Regions from separate parts of the Homo sapiens genome. Here region 1 is linked to region 2. Evidence: fine-mapped expression QTL. Tissue or cell type: whole blood. Region 2 holds a variant in brackets; the other region holds the start of a gene. All regions are shown on one strand. Distances are from middle to middle.

What was found. PIP is the estimated chance that this variant, and not a neighbour inherited with it, causes the effect.
Region 1: it holds the start of F8, and the variant in region 2 is fine-mapped to the expression of F8 in whole blood (TOPMed, PIP above 0.99).

What each region holds. Positions count from the first base shown.
Region 1 is chrX:155,016,243-155,028,086 of GRCh38, reverse strand. F8 (coagulation factor VIII) reads left to right here and starts at 5,364. Exons shown (of 26, transcript NM_000132.4): 1 at 5,364-5,677. The coding sequence starts at 5,535. FUNDC2 (FUN14 domain containing 2) reads right to left here and starts at 1,243. Exons shown (of 5, transcript NM_023934.4): 1 at 1,016-1,243. The coding sequence starts at 1,148. RefSeq lists an enhancer at 1-565 and silencers at 743-1,062, 1,333-1,422.
Region 2 is chrX:155,104,049-155,112,048 of GRCh38, reverse strand. The region is part of intron 7 of BRCC3 (BRCA1/BRCA2-containing complex subunit 3); the gene reads right to left. Among named protein-coding and RNA genes, the nearest start is that of BRCC3, 37 kb to the right of the region's middle. The variant A/T (reference allele first, on the strand shown) is at 4,725.

The DNA of each region.
Region 1 (11,844 bases), 86 kb after region 2:
TAAGAGCAGTCTGCTCTTATAAAAGTCTATAAGAGCAGTCTGCTCTGCAGGAAAATACATAATTATCACATTGCACATTCCACCTTCCCAGAGTCATCTAAAATTTAGCGGCGTGCTGGTGAAATGCTTAACAGTCGGCTTTAGGCAAGGGCTGATTTGTAGTGTAGCCAATTTCCATTGCGTATTCATTCATCGTGAGCATGACATTACTGAATTGTGAAACTACTGAACCCAGAGATGGGAAGAGACGCACAGTAGAGCACCATAGTATAGTATCTCCTCCACAAAGATACAATAGATGTATAAATAACCTCAAAAGTAAAGTAACAATAAAACATGGTAAATAATAAAAGTGATGAGTTTTTAGTATTTTCACTGCCTTTGTTTTTAACATAATTTACGTAATTTTACGTTTATATGATTGAGTTTTCAATGATGGCTCTGTTTAGCAATGGGATCCCGTGAGTCAGTACTAAATTAAATACAACCTAAACATTCAAAATAGGGTAAGACGCATAACTTAAAGACGTGCTCCACTGCGAATTACACGGAATCTTTGACTATGCCGACTAAACAGAAGGCTATTCCTAAGTACCATCCCATATGTGCTAGTTTTTCAAAACCAACAATAAAGCAGTTGGGGAGGTGCCTTGTACACAGAATGACGCCACGAGGCATTTGAGATGAACGTCCAAAGGGACAAAGAAGCCAGACCGCTTCCGAGAACGGGGACAGAATGTCTTCGGGCTTCTGCGCCGGGGGCGGCGCCGGAAGGCTGGGTGAGCTCCACTGGAGACGACACCCCAGGGTGGTTAGGCCCCAGACACGCGCGTGACCTTGGCCGGACCCTGGGAGCGGCTGAGCCAGGGGCGATCCCCGAGCGCCCTCCCCGTCCCCGCGCCGCTTGGACTCCCCGGGGAGCTCGGTCGCGACTGGCGGGCGCGGAGCCCTTCCCCTTCCGGAGCCCAGGAAGGCGGCTCCCCGCGGCGCCGGCCGCGCGCGCGCCCGCCCTTACCTTGACTGGACGCGGCCATTTCGGTGAGCTTGTCTCGCGAGGACACACGTAGAGGATCTGCGCGGTAGGCCGCGGAGTGGCGCGCAGTTGTCGCCACCACTTGGCTTCCGGCACGTGGGGCAGATGTTTCCATTCCCACGGCGGCAGCGGAAGAGGGAGGGCCGGGCGCGCCGCGGCTGCTTGCAGTCTCCGCAAGCGGCTACATCACAGAGCTCAGCGTGCGGTGTCACAGGCCCCGCGGTCCCGCCCAACAGATGCACCGAGATGCGCGTGCGCAGAAAGCGTCCCGGGGGTGAGGCTCCCTCCCTCGCTCTCCCTCTACTCCCGCCCCACTCTCCCCCACTTTCCCCCCTCCACCCACCGCGGCCGTCGGGGCTCGCTCGCTCAGTACCTGGAGGCGAGTTCCTGACGCGACTGCGACTCAATCCTCGCCTGGTGAAGAATATTTTACCTATGACTCACTGAAAATAAAGACGGCTGAGTGACCGTGTTTGTTCATGTAAACATTGAACAAATATTTATCGGCTTCTGCGATGTGTCCTACTCTTTTAGTGGAGGAAGACACATTTTATTTATGTATTTAATTTTTCTTTTGAATTTTACATGCGAGTTATACTTAATAAAACTCACTTCAAAATATACCTTCAACAGAAAATCCAGCAACAGTTTCTATTATGTTAGTTAAAACAGCCAGTCTTTTCCTTTACTTTTAAAAATTATTCATAAATGTAATTAGTGAATGATAATAAACATTGACATCTGATCCACTGCTTTAGGAGTGACACAAATGAAGTTAACTCAGGCTATTTTCTTTATAATCATTGTGCTATTGTTTTCTTTTTCTTTTCAATTATACTGCTTAATATAGGATTTTGTGGCACCATAGGAGTTGAGTAAAAATAAAAGGAATAAAAATATACCTTATCTGGCCGGGCGCGGTGGCTCACGCCTGTAATTTCAGCAGTTTCGGAGGCCGAGGCGGGCGGATCACGCGGTCAGGAGATCGAGGCCATCCTGGCTAACATGGTGAAACCCCGTCTCTACTAAAAATACAAAAAATTAGCCGGGCATGGTGGCGGCCGCCTGTAGTCCCAGCTACTCGGGAGGCTGAGGCAGGAGAATGGCGTGAACCCGGGAGGCGGAGCTTGCAGTGAGCCGAGATCGCGACACTGCACTCCAGCCTGGGCGACAGAGTGAGACTGCGTCTCCAAAAAAAAAAGAAAAAATACGTTATCTATGAAGATTTCCAATTTGATTTCTATTTATCACAAATGGCCACAGTACTCCTTTGTACTTTACCACATACCATATTGTATTCAGTAATTATTTGTGAATATGTAATTGATAATATTGTAGGTTTTAGAGAATCCTTGAAAACATGAAAATTTGGTAATGGGGTCTATTTTGATTATTTATTTATTTATTTATTTATTTTATTTTTGAGACAGAGTCTCGCTCTTGTTGCCCAGGCTGGAGTGCAGTGGCGCGATCTCGGCTCACTGCAAGCTCCACCTCCCGGGTTCAAGCGATTCTCCTGCCTCAGCCTCCCAAGTAGCTGGGACTACAGGCACGTGCCACCATGCCCGGCTAATTTTTTGTATTTTTAGTAGAGGAGGAGTTTCATCTTGTTAGCTAGGATGGTCTAGATCTCCTGACCTCGTGATCTGCCCGCCTCAGCCTCCCAAAGTGCTGGGATTACAGGTGTGAGCCACCGTGCCCGGCCATATTTTGATTTAAAATTTAGCAATAATAGATAAAATTTTCAATCAACTAAGCCCTTGGGCCAGGGAATGCTATTCCTTAAAAAGTGCTTCTATCAATATAGCCTCTGACTCATTACTTTGTTAATTTTTAAATTGTATTTCATTCCTGATTAACATTCCCACCCAGATTATTAATTATACAATCTGTTAACTGTAGAACCTCAAACATGTTGGATTGTACTGTATTTGTCTGGAAGACACATTTTTAAAACATTGTAATCGCTATAAGAGAAGCACTGGGAAAGAAAGGAGCTTCTATGCCTGCAGTGCCTGAGGAGCCCTTTAACAGTGTGCCCCGCCCCTAAGCTACTCATGCAGTCATCCCCATCCCAGTTAGTCAACTTTATTCCAAAAAACTTGGTGTTCCAAATTTTTCCTTCTCAAAGCCCACAGATCCAAAATTCATCAGCAGTTCCCACAAACGTTACCCTCACAATGAATCCAGCCATTTTTCACCCTCTCCAGTGGTACCATCATAGCCCAAGCCGCCACCATTTCTCACCCCCGGTTAACAGGCCACCCTCCTTCTACCCTTATCCTGCTAGAGTTTGTTTTATCTACAGTGATCAGAAAGATCAGCCTAAAAGATAATTCTGATCACCACCCTCCTCTACTCACAACCCGGCCGTGTCTCCCCATTGCCCTCAGTGTAGAAGTCAATGTCCCTTTGCTGAAATGCAACCTTAGTGAAACTTTCCATGACTAACCTCCTTTAAAATTGCAACCTGGTCCACCCTTACTCCCCCTTACCCCACTTCTCTTTTTTGCACAGCACTTATTTTACCTTCTAACATACTGTATAATGTACTCATGTATTGTAATTATTGCTTATCATCCCTCTTTCAGTTGCTTATATTTTTCATCAATGTGTACCCAGTGCCTAGGACAATATCTGTCTAGGACAAATGGGTAGTTATGTGGCTGTAGGCAAGCCATTTAACCTCTCTGTACCTCAGTTACTTTATCTGTATCCACTTTGCGGTGTTGTCATGAGGATTAAATCAGATAGCCTATGTGTAGCACCTGGCAGTGAATTTATCACCCTGTACTGTAACTGTCTACTTTTCTGTCTCCTCCATTGGACTGTCATTCCCAGGGGGTTGGGAACTGGGATTTCTTCATTTCTGAGGCATAGAAGTATAGCATAGTGGTTAGGAGCATGACTTCTGGAGCCAGAGTACATGGGTTTGAATGCTACCACTCACAAGCTGTGTGGCCATGGAGAAGTTGCCTAACCTCTCCGTGCTTCAGTTTCATCACCCATAAAATGAAGGTAAGAATAGTACCTGTATTTAAAAGCACCTAGAACAGTTCCTGGCATATAGTGTCAGCTGTCATCTCTGCATCCTTGTACCTGTCAGAGAGGAGTGTTTATCAAAGGGGCTTCTTGCTGCCTGTTTCCAAACCAGTCGACAATATACCAATTGCTCCCTAACACATTCTTGTTTGTGCAGAACTGAGCTCAATGATAACATTTTTATAGCAACCCTGATCAAGTTTCTTCTCATAATCTCTTACACTTTGAGGCCCCTGCAGGGGCCCTCACTCTCCCTAATAAACATTAACCTGAGTAGGGTGTTTGAGCTCACCATGGCTACATTCTGATGTAAAGAGATATATCCTATACCTGGGCCAAATGTAAACAGCCTGGAAAAGTGTTAGGTTAAAAACAAAACAAAATAAATAAATGAATAAATGCCAGGTGGTTATGAGTGCTATTGAGAAAAATGAAGCCAAGAGGGATATCAGTGATGCAGGTGGGGGTAAAGAGCTTACAACATAAATGTGGTGTTCCATATTTAAACCTCATTCAACAGGGAAGATTGGAGCTGAAATGTGAAGGAGTTGTGGGAGTGGAACTACGTGGAAATCTGGGGGAAAGGTGTTTTGGGTAAAAGAAATAGCAAGTGTTGAGGTCCAGGGGCATGAGTGTGCTTGATATTTTAGGGAAGAGTAAGGAGACCAGTATAACCAGAGTGAGATGAGACTACAGAGGTCAGGAGAAAGGGCATGCAGACCATGTGGGATGCTCTAGGACCTAGGCCATGGTAAAGATGTAGGGTTTTACCCTGATGGAGGTCAGAAGCCATTGGAGGATTCTGAGAAGAGGAGTGACAGGACTCGCTTTATAGTTTTAAATTATAACTATAAATTATAGTTTTTAAAACAATAGTTGCCTAACCTCATGTTATATGTAAAACTACAGTTTTAAAAACTATAAATTCCTCATACTGGCAGCAGTGTGAGGGGCAAGGGCAAAAGCAGAGAGACTAACAGGTTGCTGGTTACTCTTGCTAGTGCAAGTGAATTCTAGAATCTTCGACAACATCCAGAACTTCTCTTGCTGCTGCCACTCAGGAAGAGGGTTGGAGTAGGCTAGGAATAGGAGCACAAATTAAAGCTCCTGTTCACTTTGACTTCTCCATCCCTCTCCTCCTTTCCTTAAAGGTTCTGATTAAAGCAGACTTATGCCCCTACTGCTCTCAGAAGTGAATGGGTTAAGTTTAGCAGCCTCCCTTTTGCTACTTCAGTTCTTCCTGTGGCTGCTTCCCACTGATAAAAAGGAAGCAATCCTATCGGTTACTGCTTAGTGCTGAGCACATCCAGTGGGTAAAGTTCCTTAAAATGCTCTGCAAAGAAATTGGGACTTTTCATTAAATCAGAAATTTTACTTTTTTCCCCTCCTGGGAGCTAAAGATATTTTAGAGAAGAATTAACCTTTTGCTTCTCCAGTTGAACATTTGTAGCAATAAGTCATGCAAATAGAGCTCTCCACCTGCTTCTTTCTGTGCCTTTTGCGATTCTGCTTTAGTGCCACCAGAAGATACTACCTGGGTGCAGTGGAACTGTCATGGGACTATATGCAAAGTGATCTCGGTGAGCTGCCTGTGGACGCAAGGTAAAGGCATGTCCTGTAGGGTCTGATCGGGGCCAGGATTGTGGGGATGTAAGTCTGCTTGGAGGAAGGTGCAGACATCGGGTTAGGATGGTTGTGATGCTACCTGGGCCCCAAAGAAACATTTCTGGGTAAGGTGTGCACACATCTGTGTTATTAGCAGAAATGCTAACTGCCAATTCTTTTCATAGGTCTGACCTATTTGTTGATATTTTGTTCTGTTTTGTCCATTGCTTCTCTTCGTCATATGCTGCTCCTCCAGAATCTAGAGACTGGAGTAGAGGGAGGGTGAAGGGACAAAGACAAAACTTCCCTCTGCCTGCCCAAGCTTCCATAGAGAGAATCAAGGCAATGAAATCCAATCAATATCACACACAAGTTTCATGTCTGGTTCTCTTGTGTGTACATGCAATGTGTGTTTTTATAATATCTTTTCCTACTTTGGGTGTAAGGATAATATGAGCCTTGAGTTCAGAAGCTTTTCGTGTTTTGGGGGTTCTGGTGCATTTAGGCAGAGTATTAAATAACTTTATCAATATTGTCTATGGTCATCAGTTGATTCAGATTTTTCTACCTCTTCTTCAGTAAATATTGGTATATTTTGGTCTATACTTTCATAGAAAGCAATCTACTGTCCCTAGATTTGATAATGTATTGGTATCAAGTTATGTAAGAGTCTCCTGTGATTTTGTTAAACTGTTCTGTGTCTGTAGTTATATTTTCTTTTTCATTCCTTATGTTGTATATGTTCTCTTCCTCTCTTTTAAAAATAATATTTCCAGGAGTTTTCTTGATTTTATTGGTCTTGTCAAGAATTTTCTTTTGGTTTGATTTATCAATCTCTTTTTTCTTTCTGTTGCATCAGTTTCTGCTTCTACTTTCATTGATTTATTCCTTCCTTCTAATTTCCTTTGGTTCATTTTGTTGTTAGATTTTTGCTTCTTGAGTTGAATGCTGAAATCATTTATTTTATTTTTTTGTCTTCTTTAAATGTGTATTATAAAGATTTAAATATAATACATAGATTGTGGCTGTGTAAACATTAAATGTGGTCATGTTGTACATACTTTATATTCTTTTTGGTTCTTTCTGTTTGGCTCCCCACCCTCTTTCCACATCAGTCCCCTTCTCCCCCACCTCAGCTAGGTAACCCCAGTATGATAATATATATTCACATACACATACACACACACAAAGGTTTTCTTGGACATTATTTGTTTTATAAAATTGGGACATTATACACACATTTCTCACTCATTAACACGTACTAGAACTCTAAGTCAATTGGTATAGCTTTAATTCATTATTTTTATTGGCTATATAAGATTCTATGGTATGGCTGTATCACAATTTAGTCAATATGTTCACTTTATTCCAGTTTTTGGCTACTATATCCTATATCATTACATACTGGTGCTTTTACTTCTGTTGAACAAACTTGCAAGAGGAATATTAATGGAACGAAGGGAATGTTTCCTTCTAAGTTTTAATTTCCAAAGAGGTCAGAACTTTTCAAACATTTCTACCATCGAAGTATGAAAATGGCCTTCTCTCTGCATTCACATAGCGATAAGTTTTATCCTGTTTTTAAAATTTGCCAATTTTACAGGTGTAGAGTGATATTGCATCATTACTTTCATTGTGTTATTTTTATTTCTAATAAGTTGAGCATCTTTTTAAATGCTTGTTGGCTATTGGATTTATTTGGGGGATTTAATTAGTCATATGATTTGCCCATTATTCTTTGGACTCTTTCATTTAAAAAAATTATGAGAACCCTTTTATTATTACAAATATTAACTCTTTGTCATGTATATTGCAGTTTTCCCCAAGATCTATTGTTTGTCTGTTGACTTTCTTATAACTTTTACCAAAACAGTTTTTAATTTTTATAATCAGAGATATCTTTTCTTTCATATCTTCAGAGTCGGCAAGGTTGGTTAAAAATGTTTCCCACACCTCAAGATTGTACGTGTAATCTCCCAGATTTTCTTGCAAGATGTTTACTGTTTCGCTTTTTATATGCATTGCTTCAATTATCTGCTAATTACTTTTGTCATATGGCATGAGAGAGGGATTTGTCTAGTTTTATTTCCATCCAGATCAATAGCCTATTGTGATGGCACCTTTTGCCACTGATTTGAATCAACACATTCATCATATAAAGTTCTCATATATATTAGCATATATTTCTGGATTCATTAGGCTGTTTCACTAATCTACTATTATCTTGCTATGCCAGTACCATAGTGATTTGATTACAGTGAGCCTATGATATCTTCTGATATCTGGTGGGTGAAAGCAATCCTCACTATTCTTTTTGTACCTTTCTTAGCTATTCTTAGACACTTTATTCTTCCACATAAAACTGTTAAGATATTTTTCAAATTAAAAAGATCCAAGCCCTGTTGTGATTCTAACTGCAATTTCATTAAACTCAGACCTTAATTTTATTAATGTAATAAATTTAAATATTTTTCTTATTACATTTATCTCTGTGTATTTTATAAGTGTGATGCTATTGTTAATAAGATAGTTTTCTCCTATTTCCATTTATGAGTGCTTAGTACCAAATAGAGATAAGCTATTGGTTTGTGTATTTTCAGCTTTTTCTTTTGAGCCTGGGTCTCATTTTGTCACCCAGGCTGGAGTGCAGTGGGGTGATCTCACCTTACTGCAGCCTCAACCTCCTGGATTCAAGCAATTCTCCTGTATATCAGCCCCCCAAGTAGCTGGGACTACAGGAGCAGGCCACCATGCCCGGAAAATTTTTGTATATTTTTTAGAGATGGGTTTTTGCCATGTTACCCAGGCTGGTTTTCAACTCCTGAGCTCAAGCATTCCCCCCACCTCAGCCTCCCAAAGAGCTAGGATTACAGGTTTGAGCCACCGCACCCAGCCATTGTATATTCATCTTAAATCTAGCTACCTTACCAAATTTGCCTATTAATTCTAGTAATTTTACCCTAAAGTCTCTGTGAGTATTGAATCATATCATAAGTTAAATGAGACAGATTTTAGCTCATTTCCAATATTTATAGCCAGTTATTTCATTTTCTTATCTTATTGAATTTATTAGAAAACAAGAGCAAATGTTAAATAATAACAATGAAAGTGAACATTCCTTCTACTCTATGATTTTACTTGAAATAATTTTTGTATTTTGCTATTTAGAGTAACATTTGCTGTTTTGGTTTTTGTAAATGGTGTTTATTCTATTCTCATTTGCCACAAAATGTTTATCATAAATAAGTTTTCAGCAGCTGGTATCATCTGAATTGTCTTCTTTGATATGCTGATGAACAAATTATGTTCATAGATGTCCTGACACTAAATACCCTTACATTCTTGGAGTAAAATCTACTATTCATGGAATTTGATCATTAGTGGGTTCTATGTACTATTTCTTTAGACTATTCTTAGTAGATTTTCACTACTCAACCTACTAATAATAATAAACAAAGTTTTGTTGGCTTTATCAAATGAATTGATGAGTACTCCATCTTTTTCTATTGCTTAGAATAGCTTAAGTAACATTTGAATTATCCATTGTCTAAAAGTTAGGTGAGACTCACTTATGAATCCATTTGGTCCTAGTGGCATTTGCAATATCTTTAATCACCCCTCCAGGCTCTTCTATGATAATCAGTCAATTCAAGTTTCAACTTCCAATAATTATATACCTTTCTAGGAAGTAACTTTATTTATTTTTTCAATTTTGTTGCCACAGTGTTGCATGTAGCACTCACTCATGATTCTTTTACTCCACATTATCTGTAGTTATGTGCCCTTTCTTATTCCTAAATTCCTCTATCTTTGCTATTTATCTTTTTTTCCTTGAATAAGCTTGCCAATGACTTGTCTATTTTGTTGCTGGTGGTGCTCTTTTCAAAGAATGGGCTTTTGGATTTTTTTTTTTTCTAGTTGGTATAAAGCATTTTTATTTTCACTGAGCAGAAAAAGAAGCTATTGATTCATTAACTGTGCTGCTTTATTGGCATGTAGCTATGCACTGTTCACACATTAATATATAAAACTCGTCAGTCTGTTTTATTTTGTCTGATGGGAAAACATGAACAGTGAGATTTCTTATGCAAAAAGTGAACAGTTCAACTATGCTAGCTCCATATACCTTTATTAACATTCCAGAGACTTATCCTCTCAACATGATCTGATTTCTGTAGGATAACTTTTCAGGAAAAGTATTTTCTGATCAGTGAAGCTTGGAGATATAAATAAGCAATCGGCCAGGTATGGTGGTTCATGCCTGTAATCCCAGCACTTTGGGAGGCCGAGGCAGGCAGATCACCTGAGGTCAGGAGTTTGACACCAGCCTAGCCAACATGGCAAAACTCCGTGTCTACCAAAAAAAAAAAAAAAATTAGCTGGGCATGGTGGTGCTCACCTGTAATCCCAGCTACTGAGGAGGCTGAGGCAGGAGAATTGCTTGAACCTAGGAGGCGGAGGTGGCAGTGAGCTAAGATTGTGCTCAGCCTAGGTGACAGAGTGAGACTCCATTTCAAAAAATAAAAAAATAAAAAAAAGCAGTATCTCTCATATTCATTAACTGGACCCTGACTTTCTTAAAGCTCACCCCAAAGCTGAAGTCCATGAAGGCACTAGTTCTCAAACTTCAGTGTGCATAAGAATCACTCGGGAAGCTTATTAAAATTTACATTCCTAGGCCCCATCCTCAGCAAACTATTTAGTCCCCAGGTAATTCTATCCCACCCCACCCCAGCTTTATTGTGGTATAATTGACAAATAAAAGTTGTATATATTTAAGGTGTACAAGATAATGTTTTGATGTAAGTATACATTGTAAAATGGTATAGCATGAAGGGTTTTCTTTTCATTTTTTTCAGAATAGTTTGTAATATCTTCTTTGATTTCATCTTTGATAATCTAGACGTATGATTTTAATTGCTTTTTAAATTTGTTTATCAAGTTAGTTTGTAGTATTTGGGTCAACATTGAATATCCTGTTAATTTCCTATTGCTGTGTAACAAACTACATCAAATGTATCAGCTTATGACAGACCCATTTACTGTCTCACAGTTTCTGTGAGTTAGAAGTCCAGGTGGACTCAGCTGGATACTCTGTGCAGGGTCATACAAGGCCAACACCAAGGTTTTAATAGGGCTGCACTCCTTAGTGAAAGCTCTTGGGGAGAATCTGCTTACAGGCTCATTTGGAATGTTAGCAAATTCAGTTCCTTCTCTCACTTTCCATGTAGTGCCCTCTACCAGCAATGGTGCATCAACACTCTCTCATGCTTGGAATTGCTCTGACTTCAATTTTCCGTGCATATCTCTGGCCTTTTTTGCCTCTCTCTTTTACTTTTAAGGACTCATGTGATTACATTGGGCCGACCTGGGTAATTCAGAATACTCTCCCCATCTCAAGGTCAGCTAATCAGCCCCTTAATTCCATCTGCAAAGTTTAATTTGCCACATAATATATTTTTGGACATGACACCAAGGAGCAAAGGTGATGTGGGCCAAATTTTTACCTGCCACAGGTATAGTTTACATACAATGAAGCTCATCAATTTTAAATATGCAGTTTGATGAGTTTTGACAAATGCATACACTTGCATAACCACCACCCTAATCAACATGCATTTACATCAACCCTCCTGCAACTTTTTAATGAGTCTCTCCCACTGACCTGGCCTCAGCCAATAAACTGCTATCTGGAAGTTACAGATTTGTTTTCACATGTTCTAGAATTTTACATCAGTGGAATCATACGGTATGTATTCTTCTATGGCTTTTTTTCTTCAGCATCATGATTTGGAAATTCATGCAGGTTGTTGTATAAAGTATTTCTATCCTTTTTATTGCTGATTACTGCTCCATTATGGGATTATATCATAATTTTGGATTATTTCCAGTTAGGAGCAAATACAAATAAACCTGCTATGAACAGTGCTCCACATGTTTTGTGTGAACATCTATTTTCATTTATCTTAGTTAAATATCTAGGAGTGGAATTGCTGGATCATATGGTAAGTGCATGTTTAAGAGAAACTGCCAGACAGATTTCTTGAACGTACCATTCTATACTCCCACCAGCAATGCATGAGAGTTCCAGTTGCAATATATCCTGGACAACATTTGATGTTGCCAGTACTTAATGACTGCACAGTGGTATCTCACTATACTTT
Region 2 (8,000 bases):
ATATATTGTTATAATTGTTCTATTTTACTATTGTTGTTGTTAATCTCATACTGTGCCTAATTTATAAACTAAACTTTATCACAGGTGTGCGTGTATAAGAAAACATGGTGTAATAGGGGTCAGTACTATCTGTGGTTTCAGGCCTCCACTGGGGTTCTTGGAACATATTCCCCAAAGATAAGGGGAGACTGCTTTTTGTAATTTGCCACTATTTTTTCTGATTCTGTAGGTTATTTTCACCTTCTTGATAATGTGCTGTGATGCACAAAAGTTTTTAATTTTTATCAAATCCAATTTATCTGTTTTTCCTTTCTCCCTTGTGCATTTGATGTCATATTTAAGAAATTAGTGCCAAATTGAAGGTCATGAAGATGTACCCCTATGTTTTCTTCTAAAGTTGTATTGTTTTAGCTCTTCTATTTAGATCTTTGATCCATTTTAATTTTTGTATATTGGGTGAAGATAGTGGTCCAGCATTATTCTTTTTGCATGTGGATATCCAGCTGTCCCAGCACCATTTGTTGAATTGCCTCTTATTTCCCTGTTGAATTATCATGGCACAGTTGTTGAAGATCAATTGACCAGAAATGTACAGGTTGACTTATGGACTCACAATTCTATTCCACTGATTTATATGTCTATCCTTTGCTACCTTTTGTGGTTTTTCTACAGTTCTCTGAAACTCTGTCCCTTTTTTCCCAGTCTTTTCTGTCTGTTATCCAGCTTGGATAATTCTATTAATCTATCTTCAAGTTTACTGACTCTTTCCTCTGGCATTTCCACTGCATTCTCACTTTTAATCTAGAGTTTAAAATTTTTGGTTGTTATATTTTTCAGTTGTAAAATTTACATTTGCTTCTTTTTATCTTCTATTTCTTATATGATACTTTTTCTTTTTAAATATTTGTTGCAACATTTTTGTGACTGATAGCTTGAGCATTTTCATAATGGCAGCTTTTAAAGTCTTGTCAGATATTTCCAACATAAGTGTCATCTTGCCTTTTGTATCTGTTGATTATCTTCTCCCATACAAGATGAGATTTCTGTGGTTCTTAATATGTTAAATAACTTTGGTTTATGTCCTGGTTATTTTGGATATTAAGTTATGAGACTTTGGATCTTGTTTATATCCCCACTTCTGTGGTATTTTGAGTTTTGGGGCCCTTCTCCAATCTGCCTGTTATTTACATTCCAGAGTTCACAAATAGCTAGGCTTGGCATTCTTTCCAGAGTATATAGTTGAGTTCAGTGAGATATAGGGGCAGCATGTGTTGATTTCATCTTATGAAATATTTCTAAATAACACCTACATCAAAGTAAATCACAAGGGTAATAATATCACAAGGGAAATACTTTGAACTGAAGGATAGTAAATAAAAATTATGGATGTACCCAAAGCAGTGCTTAAAGGGACATTTATGGCTCTTTTGAAAAGACTGATATCATTAATAAACCCCCACCAAGACTGATCAAGGTAAAAACAGAGAACACAAAAATTACTAATGTAAGGAATGAAAAAAGAGAAATCACTTCGGATCCTACAAACTTTAAAAGAATAATAAGAAGATATTGTGAACAATGTAAACTAAAGTTCTAGGATAAATTCCTAGAAAAGCACAACTTGCCAAAACTAAAACGATACAGAAAATCAGAATAATCCTACATATTTTAAAGAAACTGAACCTATAATTTAAAACTTTACACAAAGAAAACTCCACACTGACATTGCTAATCTGTTACATTCTATCAAACATTTAAAGAAAAAACCCAAACTTACACAAACCATTTCAGAAAATCGAGATATGGGAACATTTTCTACTTTGTACTATGCAGCCAGCAAAACCATGATATCAAAATCTAGCAAAGGTGTTTAAAGAAAAGAAAATTATGGATCAATCTTATTTATGAAAAAGATATATAATTCCTAAAAAGATTAGCCTAGTGAATACACTAAAGAGATAATATACAGTGACTAAGGAATGCAAAGCTGGGTTAAGATTCAGAAATCAGTTCATGCGACTTACCACATTAAGGCAAATAATCATATGATTATCTTAATAAATGCAGAAGGAGCATTTGATAAAATTCAACATTCAATCATAAAAAAGAGGCTTAGAATACTAGAAATACAAGGGAACTTCCTTAATATGATAGAGGCTAACTACAGAAAAGCTAAATTAAACACCAGAGATAATTGGGAAATTTTAAAGCATTCTCTTTTACATTTTATTCATAAATTTTACTGGAAGACTGAGACAGTATAATAAGGCATGAAAGAGAAATAAAAAGGTGTAAAGATTGGAAAGGGTGAAATTAAATTGCCCTTGTTTATGGAAGACATGACTGTTTACATAGAAAATCCCAAGGAAATAAAATCTGCAGATAAATCATTAGGATTAATAAGTACATTTATATCCATAAGGCTGCTGGATATAAAGCCAATATACATATATCAATTTGCTATCTAAATAACCGGTACCAACTGGAAAATTATGAAAAGATACCAATTACAATAACATAAAACACCAAATTCCCAAGAATAATTTAAATGAAAGATGTGTGCAATCTTTTCAGATGTTTCACAGAAAAATACAAAAGATAGAGAAATTAAAATCTAAATAAATGGAGGGATACATCAAATTGATGAATGGATTCAATTCTATCCCAGTCAAATTTCAGCTGACATGTTTCAGCAAGTTTTCTTGTGGAAATCAACAAACCGATTTTAAAATTTATATGGGGCTACAAAGGGCGAAGAATAGCCAAGACAGTCTTGAAGAATAACAACAAAGGGGAGAACTAATGTTACCGCATATCATCAAGACTTATTATAAAGCTACAGCAACTAAGTGTGTTACTGACACAAGGATAGACACATAGACAAAACAGAATTCGCCTAGAGTCCAGAAACATAATCATATATATAGGGACGACTGATTTAAGGCAAAGTGGCAAGGCAGCAATAAATGGTGCCAGGTCAATTGGATACACACGTGGGAAAAAGGGAATGTCAACTCACATCCCACATCATATCCTAAAGTTAACACTAAGTAGATTGTAGATTTAAGCACGAATGGTGAAATAATAAAGCATCTCTTCCAGATAGGGAAAGATGTCTTAAATAGTGTAGGACACTAAAAAGCACTAGATCGAAAAGATAAAAAGATAATTTGGACTATTATATTAAATAAACAACTTAGGCTCATCAAATGATACCATTAAGATAGTGAAAACCAGGTCAGGGTGAGAGAGTAGATACTTGGAATAGGTATAGCTGACAGCTTGTATCCAGAACATACTGGAATTCTTTTGAAGTACTAAGAAAGTTAAAGAAAAATGAATATGACTTATACATGAGGGGATATCCAAAAAGCCTATAAACATTTGAAAAGGTGTTCAACCTAATTAGTCACTGGGGAAATCCAAATTAAAACCACAATAAGATACTACTGCACACTCACCAGAACTGCAAAAAATGAAAAAGTCAGAAAATACTAATTGTCAGTGAAGCTGTTAAGCTGTGAAAACCTTCATACACTGTTGGCAAGGATGTGAATTTGGAAACTATTCTACTAAAGTGATAACCCAGCAATTCCACTTCTGTGTACATACTGAAAAGATATGCATTCACATGGGCAAAAAGAGGCTTATGTAAGGATTATTTTCATAGCAGCTTTATTCATAAGAGCCCCAAATTGGAAACAACCCAAATGCCTAACAATAGAACATATAAGTAAATTGTGGTAATTTCCAACAATGAAATATTACACAGCAATAAAAAAGAACTACCATAACAGAGTGAAAGAAGCCATACACAAAGTTGTACTTACCGTATTTTCCCATTTATATAAAATTCAAAAACAGACAAAATTAATCTGTGTTGTTAGAGATTAGGATAATGGTTACCTTTGGGAAAAAAACAAGGGCATAACAATTGAGAGGAGTCACAAAGGAGGCTTCTGGAGGGCTGGTAAGGTTCTATTTCTTGATATGTAGTACAGTTTCACAGGCGTTCACCTTGTAAAAATTCATGGAGCTGATCTGGGTTGTGGTTGCATAGGTGTTTTCATTTTGTGAAAATTGATTGAGCTGGACACTTGTAATTTGTGTACTTTTCTGTATGTTACACTTCAATTGAAAAGCTAAGACCAACCAACCAAACTAAGTTTATGACAAAGAAGCTCTAGAGTATGCTAGAGCTCACAGGTCAGAATGTATGCATTAAAATAGTAGTTTTGAAATCTACAGCTGAAGGGACACTAAACAAATATTTACTGAACACCATGGGAACAGTAATAAAAAAGCATACCTTCTTTCAAGGATCTTACAATGTTAGTGGAAAAACAAAATATTAAAATATAATGTTATAAGTATTACAAAAAGGAAGTATATGATTTTATTAAGTTTCCAGGAGGAATGCTTAACTGGGATGGTATTGGGGGTTGAGAATTATCAGAGAAGGATTCCTAAATTTGATCTTCATCTTCAAAAATGACTAGACATTGGCCAGGTGGTATAAGGAAAAAGGAAACTGTAGGCAGAGTGAGCATATGACAGAGAGAGAACATGGCTGGAGAAATAAGCAAACCATGAAGGGCTGCAGGTTTGGGGCTTTATTCTGAGGGCATTAGGGAGCAGGATCATTTTAGAATAGCTACACCATGATACCAAATTGAAAGGAAGTAAAATGGGTGAGTGCTAAAATTAAAGAACTTTTAAAAAAA[A/T]AAATAAATAAAAATACTACTTAGCATCTATGGGATATATTTAAAGCAAAGATCAGTGGAAAATTCACAGCCTTAAGCATTTATATCAATAATAATGAAAGACAAAAAATATACTCATTAAATTCCAAACTCCAAATGCTAAGATAAGCACAACAAAATGACCAAAATGAAACATAAGGAAGGAAATAATAAACATAAAAGAAAAAGTAGTAAGGTTGGGAATAGAAAAAAAATAACTAAATAAAAATCAGTGTTTCAAGGAAAAATAACAAAATTGACACACCACTGGCTAACATAACCAAGGGAAAAAAGAAATAGCACAAATATACAAAATATGAAATGACAAGGGGGAGATAACTATTGAAATACAAGAGATTTAAAATATGACAGACTATCTGGCAGAGAGATCTCTGTGTAAATAAATTTGCAAACCATAAAAAATGAATAATTTCTTAGGAAACTGTACCAAAATTGACCCCATTACAGAAAGAAAGCATAAACAGATAAATTCCCAGAGGAGAAACACAAAAAGGCCTAGTTGATTTCATAGAGGAATTGTCAAAGAACTGATTGTCTCACTGCTACTTACATTTCTGTCACAGCCTAGACAGTGAAAGAAAACTCCAAACAATTCTTCTGAAGCAAGTGTAATATATATACCTAAACCTGATAAAGACAGTACAAAAAAAGAATATTTCTGATAGCACTTATGATTTTTCCTGAATACAGAATCTTTCTTAATGAAGAAATGCTACAGGAATTTCCATAAGGATCAGAAACAAAACAAGATCATCTACTATTTCCACTACTATTTAATGTTCTAAAGAAGATATTAGGCAATGCAGTTATATTTAAGGAATCAATTAGAGGTTTAGGAATTGGGAAATAAGTAAAAGTATTTGCAGATGGAGTGTGATACTTATCTGGAAAGCTCTAGAGAAATAAAGGTATAATTAACTCAAAGAACAAAAGAATTCAGGAAGATAAAAATTTACATACAGAAATAGTAGCCTTCAAATATACAAGCAAAAAACAGAGGATGTAATAGAAAAAAAACATTAACAAAGCAAAAAAGAAGTTAAATGCTTAAGAATAAATTTCAGTATGACATATACAAAACCTATATGAGAAAAACAACACTCCCGAAAGACACAAAAGTAGACTACAGCAAGTGGAAAGACAGCCAGTGCTCTTGGATAGGATGATGCAACATCACAGATTAATTTATAAATTTAACACAATCTCAATAGAAATATCAAAAAGTTTTTATCTGGAGCTAGACAAGTTGATAGTAAGGTTCACATGAAAAACCAAACATGTAAGAATAGTCAGGGTCTTGGATGGGCGTGGTGGCTCAAGCCTGGGCTCACACCTGTAATCCCAGCACTTTGGGAGGTTGGGAGTTCGAGACCAGCTTGGGCAACATGGTGAAACCCTGTCTCCACTAAAAATACAAAAATTAGCCAGGTGTGATGGCACGTGCCTGTAATCCCTGCTACTCAGGAGTCTGAGACAGGAGAACAGCTTGATCCCGGGAGGCAGAGGCTGCTGTGAGCCAAGATCGCACCACTGCACTCCAGCCTGGACAACTGGGCGAGACTCCGTCTCAAAACAAAACAAAACAAAAAGAATAGTCAGGGAAACACTGAGAAAAGAAAAGCTACAATGGAGACTAGCCCTATGGATAATAAAACATACAATAAAGCCACCATAATTTATGTGATGGTAACTAAATGGACAGACAGAATAAAAAGAAAGAGATCCAAGTGAATAGGGAGCTTTCATATATGGTAAAAGGTGGCATGTAAAATTGCTGACATGAAGATAAGCTTTTTTTTAATTATTATTTTCCCTCACTCTGTCGCCCAGGCTGGAGGGCAGTGGCACAATCTCGGCTCACTGCAACCTCCGCCTCCCGGGTTCAAGCAATTCTCCTGCCTCAGCCTCCCGAGTAGCTGGGATTACAGGCATGCGCCACCACACTTGGCTAATTTTTGTATTTTTAGTAGAGATGGGGTTTCACCATGTTGGGCAGGCTGTTCTCGAACTCCTGACCTCAAGTGATCCACGCGCCTCGGCCTCCCAAAGTGCTGGGATTACAGACATGAGCCACTGTGCCCACCTAACACAAACTTTTTAAACAATGGTTTTGTAACAGGTAGATTGCCATTTAGAAAGAGATAAAATTAGATTCATATCTTAGTCTATACAAAATTAACTCTATATAGTTCTGACTTTTGACTTTTTGAACCATGTTGATGTTTCATATACTCTAAAAGGGAAAAAAGTATGAGTTAAAAAAAATCCTAAAATGGAAAACAAGCAAACAAGAAAAAGCTGTCTTTCAAATAAATCATATAACCACACTGAAGTGGTCAGGGGGAAAATAGACTGAACCCAGCTAAGTATTTTGAGTATACACTCTTAGGCATATGTCCAAACTCATCAAAATGTGTACATTAAATATGTGCAATTCTGCATGTTAATTATACCTCAATAAAGCTTAATAAAAAGAACTGTGAATATGAAAAAGGAGAATGCTAGGATGAACCTTAAAGTATGGAAATAGAATTGGAGTTATCAGGTTGAACTCAGAGGTAAACTGGAGAAAGTTTCCCAGCTGAAGCACAAGGAGAACCCCCAGGTAGGGCTTGGCAGATGCCGAGTTGAGAAAATGGAGCTGAGACTCTGGGAAGGCCAAGATAGCTTGTGTTTGCAAAGTAAAGTACCGTAGAGGAAAGAGCTGCATAGGAAGAGAAACAACATGTCCAGACCCTCCAGTGAACTCCAAAGTATGCACAGGGGCAGGAATAGCATCTATTTTCAACAGTCCGAATGGAAAATCTCATAATATTGGAAGCATCAGAGTATTAAAAAGGGTCTTGCCTCAGTAGTGGGGAAAAAATGAACCTTATATTAAACACTGCTTTGTTTCTGCCTAACAAAGCTTAAAAGCAAGATCCAAAGGGATAGGAATGTTTCCTAATAATTTTAACAGTATCTTGAAACAAAACTCAAGAATATTTTTAGGAATACAAATATATCTAGTACCCAATAAGGTAAAATTCACAGTGTCTGCATCCAATCAAAAATTATCAGGCATGAAAAGCAGCAGAAGAGTCCAACCTATAAGGAGAGGAAATGAATTGGAATTGGCCCAGAATGATGCTGATTTAGTGACAAAATTGGAGGACAAAAACATTAAAATGAATATTATAACTATTTTGTATGTTCAAGAAGCTAGAAGATTAAACATGTTAAGTATAGAAAAGAAAA